Regions from separate parts of the Homo sapiens genome. Here region 1 is linked to region 2. The links come from fine-mapping of genetic effects on gene expression. Tissue or cell type: whole blood. Region 2 holds a variant in brackets; the other region holds the start of a gene. All regions are shown on one strand. Distances are between the middles of the regions.

Region 1 (8,105 bases), 320 kb after region 2:
CACTGGGGACATCCTCTGGGCAAGGGTCCTCAGTGCCCAACACCACACCTCGCCATGTTACTTACCATCACTGTCATGTTACTTCTGCCACCAGCTCTTCCATCTTCCCCTGGTTGTAATTGACCTTCCCCTCTACTTTCCCAGATTCTAACCTTGCTATGTCCAGTGTGCAGCCACTAGTGACATATGGCTAATGAGCACTTGAAAAACAGCTAGTGTGAACTGATATGTGCTGTAAGTATACAATATACACTGAATTTCAAAAACTTCATATGAAAAAAAGATGTAAAAAATACTGATAGCATTTTATATTGATTACCTGCAGATATAATATATATTAAATACATGGAGTTAAATAAAATGCACTATTAAAATTAATTTCACCTGATTCTTTTTACTTTTTAACATGTGGTCACTAAAAAAGATTAAAATTGCACATGTGGCTTACATTATATCTCTATTGGACAGAACTAGTCTAACCATTCTTTGGAACCCAGCGTAAGTAAAACGTTGATATGATTTGGCTGTGTCCCCATCCAAATCTCACCTGGAATTGTAATAATCCCCATATGTCAAGGGCCGGGTGGAGATAATTGAATCATGAGGGTGGCTTCCCCCATACTGTTCTCATGGTAGTGAATGAATCTCACAAGATCTGATGGTTTTATAAATGGGATTTCCCCTGCACAAGCTCTCTTGCCTGCCACCATGTAAGACATGACTTTGCTTCTCATTCACCTTCTGCCATGATTGTGAGGCCTCCCGAGGCATGTGGAACTGTGAGTCAATTAAACCTCCTTCCTTTATAAATTACCCAGTCTCAGGTATGTCTTTATTAGCAGAGTGAGAACAGACTACTACAAATCTCCTTAAAGATGCCCCTATTTTTATGACATTCTTAATTATCTCTTTTGTTCTCTGAAATCCTATAATGGATTCTACCATATACCTGACCATCTAATTACATAACACACCATAAATTTACTATTATTTTGTATCTATTCTTCTCACTACATCAATGCCAGTTCTATATCCTAATTTAGGACTCATAGTAAGCACTCAACTTTTAATTAGAATCTGGCCAGGCATGGTGGCTTATGCCTGTAAGCCCAGCACTTTGGGAGGCTGAAGTGGGAGGATCGTTTGAGTCTGTGAGCTCAAGACCAGCCTGGGCAACATGGCAAAACCCCGTCTTCTACAAAAAATACAAAAATCTGGCCGGACATGGTGGCTCACACCTGTAATCCCAGCTCTTTGGGAGGCCGAGTCGGGCAGATCACCTGAAGCCAGGAGTTCAAGACCAGCCTGGCCAACACGGTGAACCCCTGTCTCTACTAAAAATACAAAAATTAGCCAGGCATGGTGGTACACACCTGTAATCCCAGCCACTCAGGAGGCTGAGGCATGAGAATTGCTTGAGCCCAGGAGGCGGAGGTTGCAGTGAGCCAAGACGGCACCACTGCACTCCAGCGTGGGTAACAGAGTGAGACTCCATCTCAAAAAAAAAAAATACAAAAATGAGCCTAGTGTGGTGGTACATGCCTGTAGCCCCAGCTACTCCAGGGGCTGAGGTGGGAGATTACTCGAGCCAGGGAGGCCAAGGCTGCAGCAGTTGAGGCAAGGTCAAACTACTGTACTCCAACGTGGACAACAGAGCAAAGATCCTGTTAAAAAAAAGACATGGAATCTTTGCTGGAGCAATATGGTAATACACAGGGTTTTTTGGTTTTTGTTTTGTCAACAGTGTAGGAAGAACTGGAAGTCACAGGACCTAACAGCTCTTCGTTCTTCCTCTAACATAAGTAAACCGTCTGCTACATGGCTTGATACGTGTCAAGCCTGCCTGTGCCTCAGCTTACCCCTCTGTAAAATAAAGTTAATCATACCAGACCAGTCTATAGCCAGGTGAAAGTATCTACATCCAAATTGGAGTTATTACCATGATACTAAGAAATACTCTACTTCCACAGCTAATTTTATGTTTCTCACCCAGTTGTTTTAAATACAGACTACTTTTTAGGAAAAGAGAACAAATTCATCACTATTATCAAAAATAAGAAAGACGGAGAAAAATTACCTATCAAAATACTGGTCCTATCCTATTAATGGTGGGAGATATGTAATGGGAAAGAAACTGTTAAAGGCCTACTTCAAGCTGAAGTCATTTATTCATCATACTCACAATAATCCTTTAAAAAGCAAACATTACCATACCCATTTTACAGAGCAAAGAAACCGAGGTTCAGAGACAGGCTACGTAACTAGCTCAAGTCATGAAGCTGCAGGCGGCAGGGACAGGCTGCAAATACCCAAGTAAGTGGCATAATCTTTGCATACTTAAAAAAAAACTTTATTATCACTTGAAGATAAAATATATGAAAAGCAAAAGTGTTATATAAATACACACATAAAAATACAATAGTAATTACTATTCATTTCCTTCAAATAGTTTCCTTAATCTTGGCTTAATTCCTAACTTTCAGTTCAAGAGGCCTTTGTTTTCTAAGTAGACTTTTTTTCGAGTAGCAATGAAATAGAATATGTGATTAGGTAGGAACTAGTGCATTACGTACTACTTTTTAAGTCTTTAATAAATCACAGGAGCAAGTGAAAGTTTACATTAAATATTATGACTAGAATTCCTCAGACACATTTTACAAAAATCTAGTCCCTACAAAGATCACAGTAATAAACAAAGCAAACTGGGCCACTCCACTAGTAAGTATATCAACAAAAAACATACACCTAAGGAAATATAAAAGAACCTCTCCATGTTACAAAACTGAGGTCATGATGAGTTCAGTGAAATGATAAAAGAAAGTTCCCTAAAATAAGACCTACACCTTAGAGTGAAACTACAATTTTACAAACTTGAAAAGAATCAACTTTCTCAGAATGGGAACAATGTACTGTGTGCTAAGAAATAACCTGATCTAGGTTTACTTGATTCTGCCTTTATAAAATGTAGCCAACTTAATCTTGCAGACCTGGACAGAACAAAAATTTAAACGCTAAAGCACAGAAAAAGGCTCAAAGTATCAAACGCTTTAAAACACAGCTCAACTCTCCTTTATCAAAAATGTCCCTGCAGTAGGTGTTAATCAGTCACTACCAGGAACTCCACACAATGCAACCTGTGTATTGTGCAACCTGTGCGTGCATGGTATCTACAGGAAGTAGAAAATTCAGTTTACCAAGAACGCCACACTTCACTCTCCACACTTCACTCTCAAAAGTCTTGAAAACGAATCCCTGTAACAGCAACTAATTTACATTTCATTTCAAACTGAACAAGTCAGTGTAACCTCAAGGTATGTGAGATTGTGAATAACTTCACTTGGCAAAATCAGGTGTGGTTTGGTTTGGCTTGGGTTCTTCTCCCCCTCAGAGGTAGAATATAAATAGAAATAATCAGCAACTTCTGATCTCATGAACAAGATCTTTATTTAAAATCTTCACACGTTAAATCATTTTATGCAATATTCTTTCAAGTGACAGACACATTAGCACTAGGCGATTTTTGTGAATTTTGGGACTAAAAGACACCTGGAAGAAACATAAGGTGTTCTTTCCTTCGCCACCAAATACACAGGTAAGTGTGTCTATAGATAGCAAAGGTGTTTTCATCCCAAAGAAAAGTTAAGACTTAGGATGTAAAAAAATACAGAAAACAAAACATAGCCTAGGCGAACCAGCTACAGATCACATGCAGCAGGTGACAGGAAGCCTTGTGGACACCTCACACCCACAGGGGCGAGCTTCATCACAGGTCAACTCCAAGCCCACCTGAGCTCCTCAGAACCTCCACCTGGCAGGCCATAAACCAGAAGGTGGCAGACAGCATCACTGTCATGCCGGTAATAAAGGAGAAGCAGCCTCCCTGAACCCAAGAAAACCACCCCTCTCTCCAAGCAGGAAGAGAAGGCCCCTTCACACCAAGGACACAAAGAAACTGAAGCAGCCAGACCCAAAATAAAAATTAAATTTAAAAAGCAGCATGGGAAGACAGATGACAAATCTGTGCTGGGATCGCCTGGAATCTCGGTCTATATGGGGGTCTCACACTCAAAAGTAAAAATAAAATTTAAAAGGGGGATGACAGAGATGAGAGCCCAATTAGGTCTGTGCTGGGTTCACTTGGGGTCTCGGTCTACTTAGGGTCTCAGACTCAAAAATAAAATTTTAAAAATGAAAGGGGGAGGTGACAGTTCAATGTGTGCACGTGATGACCACTTGGGATCCAGTTCACTTGCTGGGAGGACAGGGGACAGGTACCTCTGTGCCCGGCCTCCAGGTTCTCCGGGAGCGCAGGCGCCCAGCGAGAATCTGGGCTAAGTTTAACTCGAGGGCGACGGGAGCAGTGCCCGAGGGCCAGGCTGCGGCTTTCTGGAAACAAAGCCCCGGGGGTCCAAGCCCAGATCCAGGGAAGGGGGTCGGACGCCCACCCATCCCCCTCCCCAGCCTCCCAGCCACCGACCCCTGCACAGAGGAGCGCCCTCCCGGCAGGTGCCCCTAACCCGGCGCCCCGACCCCCGCGCCCGGCGCGCGCCTCACCCAGCAGCGCCCGCAGGTGCTTCAGGCGGGTCAGCACGTCCTTCTTCGGGTCCAGCACCTTCTGGGTGGACTTCTTCACATCCCCGTGGCTCCTTCGGGAGAACATCCCGCGGCAGGAAGCCCGGGCCCCGCCGGCGGGGCAGTAGGCGCCTGCGCCACGCGAATCAAAGCATAGGGTCGAGGCCGGCGCGTGTCGCGCGGGCCACTCGCCGCCCCCAGCCCCGCTGCTGCCGCCGCCGCCGCCGCCGCCGCCGCCTCAGCTGTGTCTCCAGGAAGGAGGGGCGGGCCGGTCACGGCGAGGGGCGGGGCAGGAAGGCGGTGTCGACGGGGAACCGAAGGCCCCGCCCCGCGGGAGGTGCCGGCCGGCCCCTTGGGCGCTACGCACGCGCACACAGGCCGAACTCTCCTGGCGGGACACTAGCCCGTCCGCGCCAAAACCTAGCGGGGACGCGCTCAGAGGGCCGAGAAGGCGCCTCGAATCACAAAGGAGCTTCTCTCACGCACACGTTGTACTACAAGTCCCGAGATGCACCGCGAGACAGTCCTCCAATCAGGCTGGCGGTCTTCGGCACGATGGGAGTCAGTGGGCCGGCATTGGGCACGTCGCCCCGCCCTGCCGCGGGCCGCAAGTGCTCCTGGGAAATGAAGTTCTCCAGCAGGCGACGCGCTGCGACCTCTTTTCCAGGGTCGCAGAAGCGCAGGGCGGCCTCTGTCCGTCCCCTGCCCCGGCAGCCTAGATCGCCCGTGGTTTCACTCTCCCTCCTGCGCGCCCACCCCATTTTCCTCTAGTGCAACGTGAACCACACACGCCCAAAAATCTCAGTAAGAAAAGTGTCAAGGCTTTTCAAATGCAAACTATTTTTAGGTTTAGCTTCTGGATTCACACAAGGGAGCGAGTCGAAGCCCCTCTGACCGTGCCGAAATCGCAGCTCTAATTTCACACTAAAATGAGTTGCTTTGGCACTAGGGAAGAGCGTGCCCCGGTGAGGAGTTCAGCCGGCCCCTAGGTTCCTGGAACCCAACCTCACTTGGGGTATGGAGGTCGCTCGCTCAGAGGGCTCCTTGGGATCTTGCCTCTTTGTAGGAAGGGTGCGTTCTCTGTTGTGCAAGCCACATGGCGATCCAGTAGCAGAACCAGAAATAGAACCTGAGGGATCTGACTCAGGCCTGTATACTTTTTAAAGCCAGGCGCTTATTCCCTGGGGCAAGACTTTGAGCTGAAAGATGGTCAGGAGATTTCTTACACTGTAGGATTGTATAGTGGCATCCGAATCCTGCAAGTTTTGACATCCTTTCAGCTTTTTCAGCAAGTACTTAAGGTAGAATCACGTGGTTTCCATCCAAATTGGGACAACACAACTGTCTTTTTCTCCTCTAGCTGAACTGTAACTTGAGGGAAGAGACAAGGATTTACACGCCTTTGTATCCCCATCCCTCAGCACAGTATTTGGCCCATAGGGTCACTCAATAAAAGTTTATTAAATGAAATACAATAAAAAGCTAAAGTAGTCCTACATATTTCAACCAGGCAGGCGAAAAGGAAAAAATAAATAAATAAACTCACAGTTTTAGAGCGTCTCTCTATTTTTAGATTTGTGTAATATTCCTTTGTATAGACACATTCATACAAAGGAATATTACTCAGCAATAAAAAAGAACAGACTACTGATAAACCCAATAACATGGATCACTCTCAGACCCGGAGATGAAAGCCCCATGCTCAAGATGATGGCAGAGCGGCCCTACCAGCCTGAGTCCCCAGATGATAACAGATCAGGACCACAAACTTCTAAAAGTGTAACAAGAGAGCAAAATAATGTCTTATCTTAAGTCAAGGCATTTTGAGAGTCTTCGTTACAGCAATTGAGCTTGTACCTGATTACACATAGTAAACCACAATGTTCACTGTCCAATTCCTTTAGGAGAAGATACTTTTCCTTACACTGATTGAAAAAATAGAATATACTTGTCTTAGGAAACTCCATTTTTTTAATTGCAAAGCAAGCTGCCATCATCATCAAACATTTATTGAGCACCTGCAATGTGTAAGGCATGATTCTAAACCCTGGAGATAAAAGATGTATAAGGTGCATCCTCCTGACCTCCAATGCTTCCAATCCAGTTAAGGAGGCTGAGCGATTAGATACATGTGGGAATAAATGACAGTGTACAGTGAACATGTGATACTATCAAGCTTGGTAATGCCAGAAACAGGCATCTGTGCATATAAATTCATCGCACCCATCATATCTAGCCTTTACCCAGTAATGAAAATGTAGAACTCCAATTCTTCTCTTAAAAAGGAAGAAACATATAGTATTATTATGTTGGTACTTTTTCACCCACTTGCATATTCCATATGGCTCTTCTTATTTTCTGTTGTTCTTTCTAAACTCGTTCCTGCTGGGCTGTGAACTCTTTGAGGGCTTCACTTGCTTTGCACTGAATTCTTTATCCCTGGAGTTATAGAGTGCCGAGTGTTATGCAGACATTAAGTGTTGTTGAATAAATGTCCTACAGTAATCAGCAAATAAGAATAATGAGATCAAAAGTTTAAAACTTGCAATGCAAATTAAAACTACTCTGAAATATCATTTGAATTAGAAAAAACAAGCAAACAAAAAACCTCTACAGAGACAAGGTGTGATAACACACTCTAGTCTGGTGGCAGAGCTATAGAAAACATAGCTGGTAGAAATGTTAGATGCTACAACTCTTATGGAAGGAAATTTGGCAAAAATAAATATTTGCCTTTTGACCCAGAATTTCAATTTCTTTTTTTCTTTTTTCTTTTTCTTTTTTTTTTTTTTTTTTTTGAGATGAAGTCTGGCTCTGTCACCCAGGCTGGAGTGCAGTGGAGCTATCTCGCCAGGTCCAAACGATTCTCCTGCCTCAGCCTCCCGATTAGCCGGGATTACAGGCGTGCGCAACCACGACTGGCTAATTTTTTTGTATTTTTAGTGGAGAGGGGGTTTTGTCATGTTGGCCAGGCTGGTCTTGAACATCTGACCTCAGGTGATCCATGGGCTTTGGCCTCCCATGTTTTGTTGTTTTTTTTTTTTTTTGACAGTCTTGCTCTGTCCCCCAGGCTGGAGTGCAGTGGTGTGATTTCAGCTCACTGCAACTTCTGCCTATCAGGTTCAAGCGATTCTCCTGCCTCAGCCTCCTGAGTAGCTGGAATTACAGGCATGTGCCACCATGCCTGGCTAATTTTTGTATTTTTAGTAGAGACAGAGTTTCACCATGTTGGCCAGGCTGCTCTTGAACGCCTGACCTCAAGTGATCCACGGGCCTCAGCCTCCCAGAATGCTGGGATTACAGGTGTGAACCACCACACCCAGCCAGAATTTTGACTTCTAGGAATCTACCCTGCAGATATTCTAATATATAACACTGGAAGGATTTAAAAAAAAACCTTAACATTAATGCCTACCTAAGTGGGATAGAGGATGAGGTGGAAAGGACTCAGTGTCCTCTCTGAGTATATCTTTTTATATTTTTTTCATTTTTGAACCATGTAAATGTTTTCCATATTCAAAAATTGAAACAGA
Region 2 (8,093 bases):
GCCCAGATGTCTGGAATCATTTAAAATAAAGGGGCATTTGCTGACACCACAGAAAATGCCAGGACTTGCAGTCACTCTTCACATTGCCCTTCAGCCCCCGTGAGTATCCTGGGCCCTTCCCAAAACGGCCCAGGGGCCAGAAGCTTCCTTCCACTTTGGGGCACCCTCATTCTCTTCTGTTCAGGTGGTTCTCAAGGTGCTCCTGTCAGTGGGCCTGGCCTGCAATCCCCTATAAAGCAGAAAAGCAAATTCTCGCCAGGATGAGCAGGCCCGCCCTTCCGACAGGAACGACTGGCTCAGCTCTTTCTCATTTGTCCCAAGAGTGAGTCTGGCTCCTGAGTCTCCCCGTTTTCCCTACAAAGGCCAGGTTCCAGCCAAACCAGCTCCATGGCAAATGGAAAAAACTGGCTCCTCAGTGAAAATGGCCGTTCTGATGGGGTGAGAGCCTCAGAAGGCTTCTTCAGGCCTGGGTGGCCAAGCAGCCTGAAGGTAACAAGTGTGTGCAAGGGCAGAGGGCAGAGGGCACAGGAAGGTGGGGAGGCCTCCCGCACAGGGCCCGCCTTTCCCAGGACCAGCCCACCCATCATAAGCCCTGAGTTAGGGGCTGCGTCTCTCGTGCTGCTGTCCCTTCCCACTGCAGGGCGTTGCTCTGTACCTGGCCGCTGTGAGAACAAAGCCTGCGCAGTGGCGATGGACTCTGGTAAGCTTCTTGGATTTACTTCCCAAGTGAAGTGCGGGGTGGAGCAAACCTCTAGCTCTGAGGCAGGTCAAGGGTCCAGGACACAGCCTGGGGCCTGCGCCAGCAGCTCTTCGCTGCTGACTGATTTCTCTGCTGCAGGACGGGCAAGGCCCACCCAGGGCGCCCCAGCAGGAGAGGGCTCACCATTGCTTCTCTTTTCATTCATTCATTCATTTTGTTTTTAAGAAAAAAAAACAACAACAACAAAAAAACAGGTCTAATAAGCCTTCCTTGGAGCCAAATGGGCAAAAATGTAAGGATTAAATCCCTCGCTTGGAATCGGCTACCAAAAGCTTTGTGTGACAAGAAACATTTCTGAGGCCTGTGTGAGGCCTCTCTGGGCAACAGACAGGAGCAGCAAAGTTGCAGCGTGAGGCTTTTGGAGGCACAAGGCCATTCGGGGGGTACCCGTCTCAGCCTAGCGCCTGAAGCCGGCATGCGCCTTTTGTGTGGATGTGGTCTGTGTTGTTTTGAGCCTTGGGACACTTCCTGTCCTGCAGGAACTTATGCAAGGACAGGACCCTGTATTTCTGGAATCTTCTGAGTGTTCTAAGATAGGGGCATCACTGTCATGACCTGAAGCGCCTCTGCGTGGTGAGGAGAGCCTCTGCTTAGTTAGCGGGCGTCAGGTACCATGTGGGAAAACACTGGACAACTGAGGTAAAACTTCTCCTGGGCAAAAGACCCCGGGGAAAGCCAATTTCCATGATGATGAAATTTTTGAGTAAACCATAAATCCTAACATAAAAGGAACTAGCAAAATCAATGCAGATCAGATTCCTCAATTAGACAATTGTTTTGCCAGCCCCTTTGTGAATCATGCTTGGGTTCATAAATGAGAAGAAACAACTTGGGGTGCAGAAGCAAGCTGCCCTCTGCCCCCTCCCTGAAAGCGCAGAATCTTTTCCTGCTGTCATCTGCCCAGAGCAGCCACACCAGTGCCCACGTGTCAGTGGGTTCATCTCTGGTTTTTGGTGACTTTTTCTTTTCTTCTTTGGAAGTCCAAGGTTTGTGAGGTTTCAGGACAAGATGATACAGCCTAGTTTGAGTCCCATCTGAGACACGGTAGTGGGATTCACCATGGGCTTCAGAAGTCCACTAATGGGAAGACCTGCTGAGGGCACTAGTACAGCAACGAAATTTCCTGGAGATTCTGGGTTTAGTGGCTCGGGGCAGAGGCAGGAGAGGGTGTTCTGTCTCCTCCTCACTCAGGGGCTCTTCGAGGTCAGCACTCAGACTGGAGGCCAGGGCCCCTGCAAAGGAAGCAGAGAACTGCTAAGTCATGGAGGCAACGGCGGCTCTACGGCCACACATTTCAGGGAGGATCTGTGGCACTCAGAAGGGAGGGAAACTCCCAGGAGAAGGGTCTGGTGACCTCCTCCCACGCTATGCCGGCAAAGATGTTTGTTGAATGAATAAACACATGAATGTCTTTCTTCTTATTCTTTGCCCTGGGCTTTTCTGCAGCATAAAAGAAGCTATGAATCTTGTGAAATTAATTCAGACTTACTGTCCAATTCATAAGTAAAGAATGAAGAGAAAAGGCATCTGGTCACAGTGAAAGGGAGGAAGAGCCACTGAAGAAGCAGTGGCTGGAGTCAATGGAAAAGCCCGTGAAACTTCAGAGGCCGCTCTGCAGATCCCTGGCGGTGTTCCTGGAATCTCCACGTGTTTACATATCGATATTCTACACAATGAGTTACAACTCGATTATTCCCCAAAGGGTCTAAGACTAGAGGTCAGTCCTAAATTGCTTGTCTGAATGAGTCCAGATGAGCATACAGCTGTTCATCACTGGAGGGAAAAGGAATAAAATTAAAACCTGCACATCTGCACCCCCCGCTTCCCCAGGGCTGCTGTCGGTGTGCTCAGAGGAATACAAGAATGCCTGCTGCAACACCAAGCCACTGTTGCGGGTGGAGCTGGGTCTCCCCTAGCACCGTTCTGCGAGCGAGAGGATCATTTCATCACCCTTCCCCTCGTAGTGTATTTTTAAACCCTGTTGTATTATGCCCCAAGTTTCCTGCATGACCTCTGCTGGGAACCAACCTCAGAAGCAGAGTTTCCACATCTTCCTCCCTGCGTGATTCACTTGCAGGGCTTTGGCCTTTGAAATTATTATTATTATTGGCATTTGAAATTAATTTAAGTCAGTTATTTTATTCACAGACGCATCTTTTTTCATTCTCTGACCTTCCCTTATTGTTTCTAGGAGGAGTTTCCAAAATCAATACTTGCAAACGTGCTTGGACCTATGGAGGCAGCCTGGCTCAGGGTGTCCTGAAATTCAGTACTTTCAGAGTCCAGGGGCTTCATGGTTGCCTCCCTTCTTCTAGGCTCAGT[C/A]AGGTCGGGCATACAGAGAAGGCTCACTATTCTCATCTTTAAAACAGGCTGCAGCCGGGCGCGGTGGGCGGATCGCTTCAGCCCAGGAGTTCCAGACCAGCCTGGGAAACACAGTGAAACCCCGTCTCTACAAAAACATTGCAAAACTTATCCAGGCATGGTGGTGCGCACCTGTAGTCCCAGCTACTTGGGAGGCTGAGGTGAGAGGATTTTGAGCCTGGGAGGTCAAGGCTGCAGTGATGGCTTCACTGCACTCCAGCTTAGGTGACAAAGTGAGACCCAGTCTCAAAAAAAAAACACCACACATGAAAAACCTCAGAACACAAAAACAGGCTGCTTCTGACAAAGGCAGCACAGCTAGACCATCATCCACAAGAGAAGCTAGATTGTTACAAGGCATCTCTCCATCCCCTCGCAGCTGGTGGTGGGCACTGGCATTTAATCCAGGGTGTGGGGCAGCATGGGAGAACAGACTTGATTTAATCCCAGACAATATTCCAACAGCCCAGCCCACTATGGTAATCAGATTGATTCTAATAAATAAGCAAAAAAAAAAAAAAAAAAAAAGGCAAGTAAATGAAAGATATAAAGTGAGATCCAAAGAGAAAGAGCGAACCTTTGCTAATTCTGGATTCGAAGGAAAACATTTTAGTTCCTCTGCCCCACCCACTCACCCAGGGAGGATAAAGAGGGAAAGAGGGGTGCACCTCGAGTTCCTGCAGATGGACAGAGGAATGCCAGCTTTGTCCCGCTGAGTGAGCCTGGAGAACAGCAGGAAGCTCTGCAGAGAAGGGGGCCTGTGCACCTGAAAGCAGGGATCCCATGGCCAGGGGCAAAGGGCAAAGCCACCCCTGCAGCTGGGCTGCAGCCAGTGCCACAGTGCCCTACACAGGCCTCTGGTCCCCAGCTTTCTGCTGGGACATTCTCATCTGCACTGGGCCCTCGTGCCACAGCACCCCGTGGTGGGGAGGTGGCAGCTGCAGGACAGGTAGGCGGGACACAAGGTACGGCCGCCTTCCTGATATGACACGTCCACTCGCAGCTTTGCTCCACTCGCACTGCCTCCTCCCGGTGATGGAAGCCAAGGATTTATTCACAGGACACTCGAACCTCACCTCCCCACTTTGGCGGCAGGAGCAGGAGGACATGCATGGAGACGGGGGTCTCGGCAAATGCGAAGTTTTGCAGCAAGGTGCCCTGCTGGGAGGGGACTGTACAACCCTTCTCTGCCCCATCTTGACATGAGCACCTGGGCTCTGAGGCTCGTGTCACCTGTTGGGGCTGACACGAGTGAGCCCAGTTTGGGACAATATCAGGACTGGGCTTAAGCCTTGGGTGAGGGGAAGAGAAAGGGCAGCTGGCTGGAGGGTCGGCTGGCTGTGATGCTGGCTGCTCCTCTGGCCTGCAGGTCCAACAGCCCTGCCTAGCAGAGGAGGGTGAAGGTTTGGATAAACCAACAAATCTGGACCCTAACATCCCACTTCCATATTTACTGAGACAAAGTGACTGGTGTCTGTGCCTTGCATTCCACTGTGGGCGACAGGCTCAGGAACGGCAGCTCGCTCACTTGCTTTCTCCTGTGAATGGCATTGCCGTGATCCTTGTCATTACCAACTGCTCGCCTTCCGCCTGTGAGCCTGGGAGGTGGTGCAGCCCAGGCCACACGGGACAGGGTTTTCAGACAGCCTTGCCAAGGCGGCTGCCATCCATCAGAGCGCTCTGGGCAGGGCCTGGACCCCAGACCCAGGACAGAAAGGCAGGCTGGGGAGGTCACACCTGCCATGGCCAGCCTATCCTCTGGGTCCTAGACCGCAGCCCATTCCTAGGTCTCCACCCTCTGCGCTCCCGCAGCTTTTGTCCGCTTTTCCTTCCCCAGCTGTTCCATTCAGCAGCCCCCGCCACAACCTGCCCTCCCCGCATGGAGGTCTCAGAGGCCTCCATTAAGGCTGGCGGTCAAAGGCCGGCCCAGCACGTGCCGTGTCTTATCGGCCCATCTCAAGACCCTGCTCCTTCAGGCCTGGGCAACAAAAAAGGGGGCGGCCCCAGCGCCCGCTGGCTCCCTGCAGCCCCACACACAAAAGGGCAGGCGACAAAGACATTTTCCGGGATGGCAGGTGTTGGTGTCGGATTCCTCCCCGAGTGCACGGGCAGAAGAAAGGCAAGGCTGGGCTTCCCCGGGCAGCGCAGACATGCAGGGGCAGGAGTGTGGGCAGGGCCCCCGGGGAGGGGAAGGCCCAGGAGGGCGAGGAGCACTGATGCAGGGTCCGCTACCGAGGGCAGCCGATTAGAAAAGTCCCACCCCCTCCCCAAAGCAGGGTGGCTGGACAAATCCACTGAAGTGTCTGTCTTACCTTGCTCAAATATTGAAATGAGACCTTTACGTGTTTTAATCTGAAGGGAAAGAACACAAAATGGAATGAATACAAACACAACACCCCCACAGCTCCAACTTGATAACTAACACAGTGCTAATAATACATTTATCCCTGAGCTGCCCAAGCATTTCTGCAGCCTTGTCAATCAGTAAAAACTGAACATTCACTTGAAAATTCTACTTGATAGGACAAAATACAAGCCGATGTCGTGTTTACAAATGTGAAATGAGAGAGACATTAGAACTCCCAGGATCTACGCATGCAGACCTTGTCAGGATCTATGCATGCAGACCTTGTCAGGAGCCCTACAGATGCTGAACAGCACTGACAGCTATATCCTTTCCCTGCTCTCCAACTTTTCCTGACTGATTTTGTTTAAAATACAAAGATAAAAGTGTTTTCAAGACAAGCATTTGAAATTCAATGGATGACCTGAAAAAATAATTGAAACCCCCTAGGTGGGCAAGTTTACATGTCTCCAAGTTTCATTTTACAGGTTTCTGAGTTATACACAGTGTGTTAATACTGGTGTCACCTGCAATATGACAGTCCCCAGGGAGGGAACACACAGCATCCTGTGCAGAGGAAAGCTTGGGAGGGTTCCCTGGAGTGGTGAAATTGGACCATAAGGTCACTCTCACCCACAGAGCAGCAGGGTCTCAGTAGTCACACAGAACTGAGGGGGATTTTAGCTTTTCTATGCCTTGTGACAGGTTCTTCCACCCCTTCCACGCCATCCTATTTCCTACGGCGGGGTTTCCTTGGCAAATGCATCCTCTTTCTGCGTCAGGCAGTAGCTTCTCCTGAACTCTCAGCCCCCACAACTCTCCTGAATTCTGTGTCAGTAGACGACCATCAGATCTGGACAAAGGACATTTATCAGTGACGTGGACCATTGTCTGCACAGTCACAGTTGTAAACGTGGATTTTCTGCTGACCCCCTCTGCCAAGGTTGCCAAGGTTGGCACAGTGACAGGGGCAAACTTCTAAGATGGTGGCTCCAGCAGCCATCAGGAGGTGACCACTAACATTCTTTTAGCCAAGGCTCCATGAAAGAAACGTGCACTGCTATGGAGACATCTTTTCCAATCTATTGATGAAAATTGTCCCTTTCTCCCAAGAAAATTATTTGGGGTTAGGAGATTCTGGATCAGTAACTGATCGTGGGTCGTGTATGATCCTTGGTTTGATTTCCAACCACCGTTAACACCGTTCCTTCTCCACACCTGGTTGTGCTCTTTGGGCACAAGAGGTTCTGGGCTGCTGCTGACTGTTGGTCATGGGCTAGAATGTTTTCCATGGATCCTCGGGATGATTAATCATTTAGATTTCTGATTTCCCCCCAATGTGCTGTGCTGAAGGGCCCCCATTTCCTCTCATGGAAGAGGGCAAACATAGAGCATATCTGCGTGGGTCTTCCTTGAGTTGAGGAAGTTCGGCTTTTAGAGCACCATGCCACTGACACCCTCCAGTGTGAGCAAAGGGTCTCTTTATGAAGGCGCTCCTTGATCTCACTCCTCTGCAGCCCCTCAGCCCTGGTTATGCTGTGCGTACAGGCACCCGATTGGTAGAAACCAAGAAAGCAGATGGCGCAGCTAACAATGGAGGACTTGTTTGTAATTGCTGATGAGGACTGGGTTGCCCCTCTCCTGTGCATCCCCAGACGCAGCCTGGTGTGGTGTGCTGGACCACAAAGAATGTCTCAGTAACTGCCAATCCATGGTTGAGTTAAGGAGATGCAAAGACAGAGACAGTTGGGGGCTGCCTTGATTATTCCATGGGGCTCAAATGTCACTTGCCCTTGACACACGGCGGTGCTCCCAAAGGGTGGGGTTCCAGTCGTGGAGCAGAGGAGTAAGCTGTCAGCTTCCTGATACATCTCTGGGGTACGCACAGGGCACTGACCAACCTGGGCAGTGTGGAGGGCACCTGGAGGGCAATGTGCTCGGAGATGGGGGGTGGGAAGAGGCCAGGAGGGACCTGACGTCTGGGGGCGATAGGGGAGAGACACAAAGCCTAACTGTCCTATCCCTTTGTCAAATGAGCAGCAGATATGTGCCAGGTACTGTTTTAGGCTCTGGGTTACAGTGGTGACCAAAGCAGATGAAACCGCTGCCTCCAGGGGATCTGGGAGAAAAGTTACAGCATGCAGTCTAATGAGGGGATATCACCCCTTGGGGTGGCAAAATAGCCTACTCTTTATATGCATACAGCACAGGTCTAAGTACTGTAAGTAAACAGATACACAGTGTTTCTGTGGTGTTTCAGGGGAGGGGACAAATTAGGAAACCAAAATGTCTCAGAAGGCTCCACGGTGGGGTGATAATGGATAAAAGGTTGTGACAGCCGGGCACGGTGGCTCACGCCTGTAATCCCAGCACTTTGGGAGGCCAAGGCGGGTGGATCACCTAAGGTCAGGAGTTTGAGACCAGCCTGGCTAACATGATGAAATCCTGTCTCTACTAAAAATACCAAAAAATCAGCTGGGTGTGGTGGTGGGCACCTGTAATCCCAGCTACTTGGGAGGCTGAGGCAGGAGAATCGCTTGAACTGGGGAGGTGGTTTCAGTGAGCTGGGATCATGCCATTGCACTACATCCTGGGCAATAGAGCGAAACTCCGTCTCAAAAAAAAAAA

The links. PIP is the estimated chance that this variant, and not a neighbour inherited with it, causes the effect.
Region 1: RALGAPA2 starts here. The variant in region 2 is fine-mapped to the expression of RALGAPA2 in whole blood (TOPMed, PIP 0.98).

Annotation. Positions count from the first base shown.
Region 1 is chr20:20,707,821-20,715,925 of GRCh38, forward strand. RALGAPA2 (Ral GTPase activating protein catalytic subunit alpha 2) reads right to left here and starts at 4,824. Exons shown (of 40, transcript NM_020343.4): 1 at 4,555-4,824. The coding sequence starts at 4,660. RefSeq lists a silencer at 4,715-4,974 and enhancers at 4,966-5,260, 5,085-5,284.
Region 2 is chr20:20,391,262-20,399,354 of GRCh38, forward strand. It overlaps RALGAPA2 (Ral GTPase activating protein catalytic subunit alpha 2), which reads right to left. Exons shown (of 40, transcript NM_020343.4): 39 at 5,434-5,473; 40 at 1-1,992. The coding sequence ends at 5,469. Among named protein-coding and RNA genes, the nearest start is that of INSM1, 27 kb to the left of the region's middle. RefSeq lists enhancers at 1,529-2,728, 3,523-4,067, 4,068-4,611 and a silencer at 4,984-5,278. The variant C/A (reference allele first, on the strand shown) is at 3,083.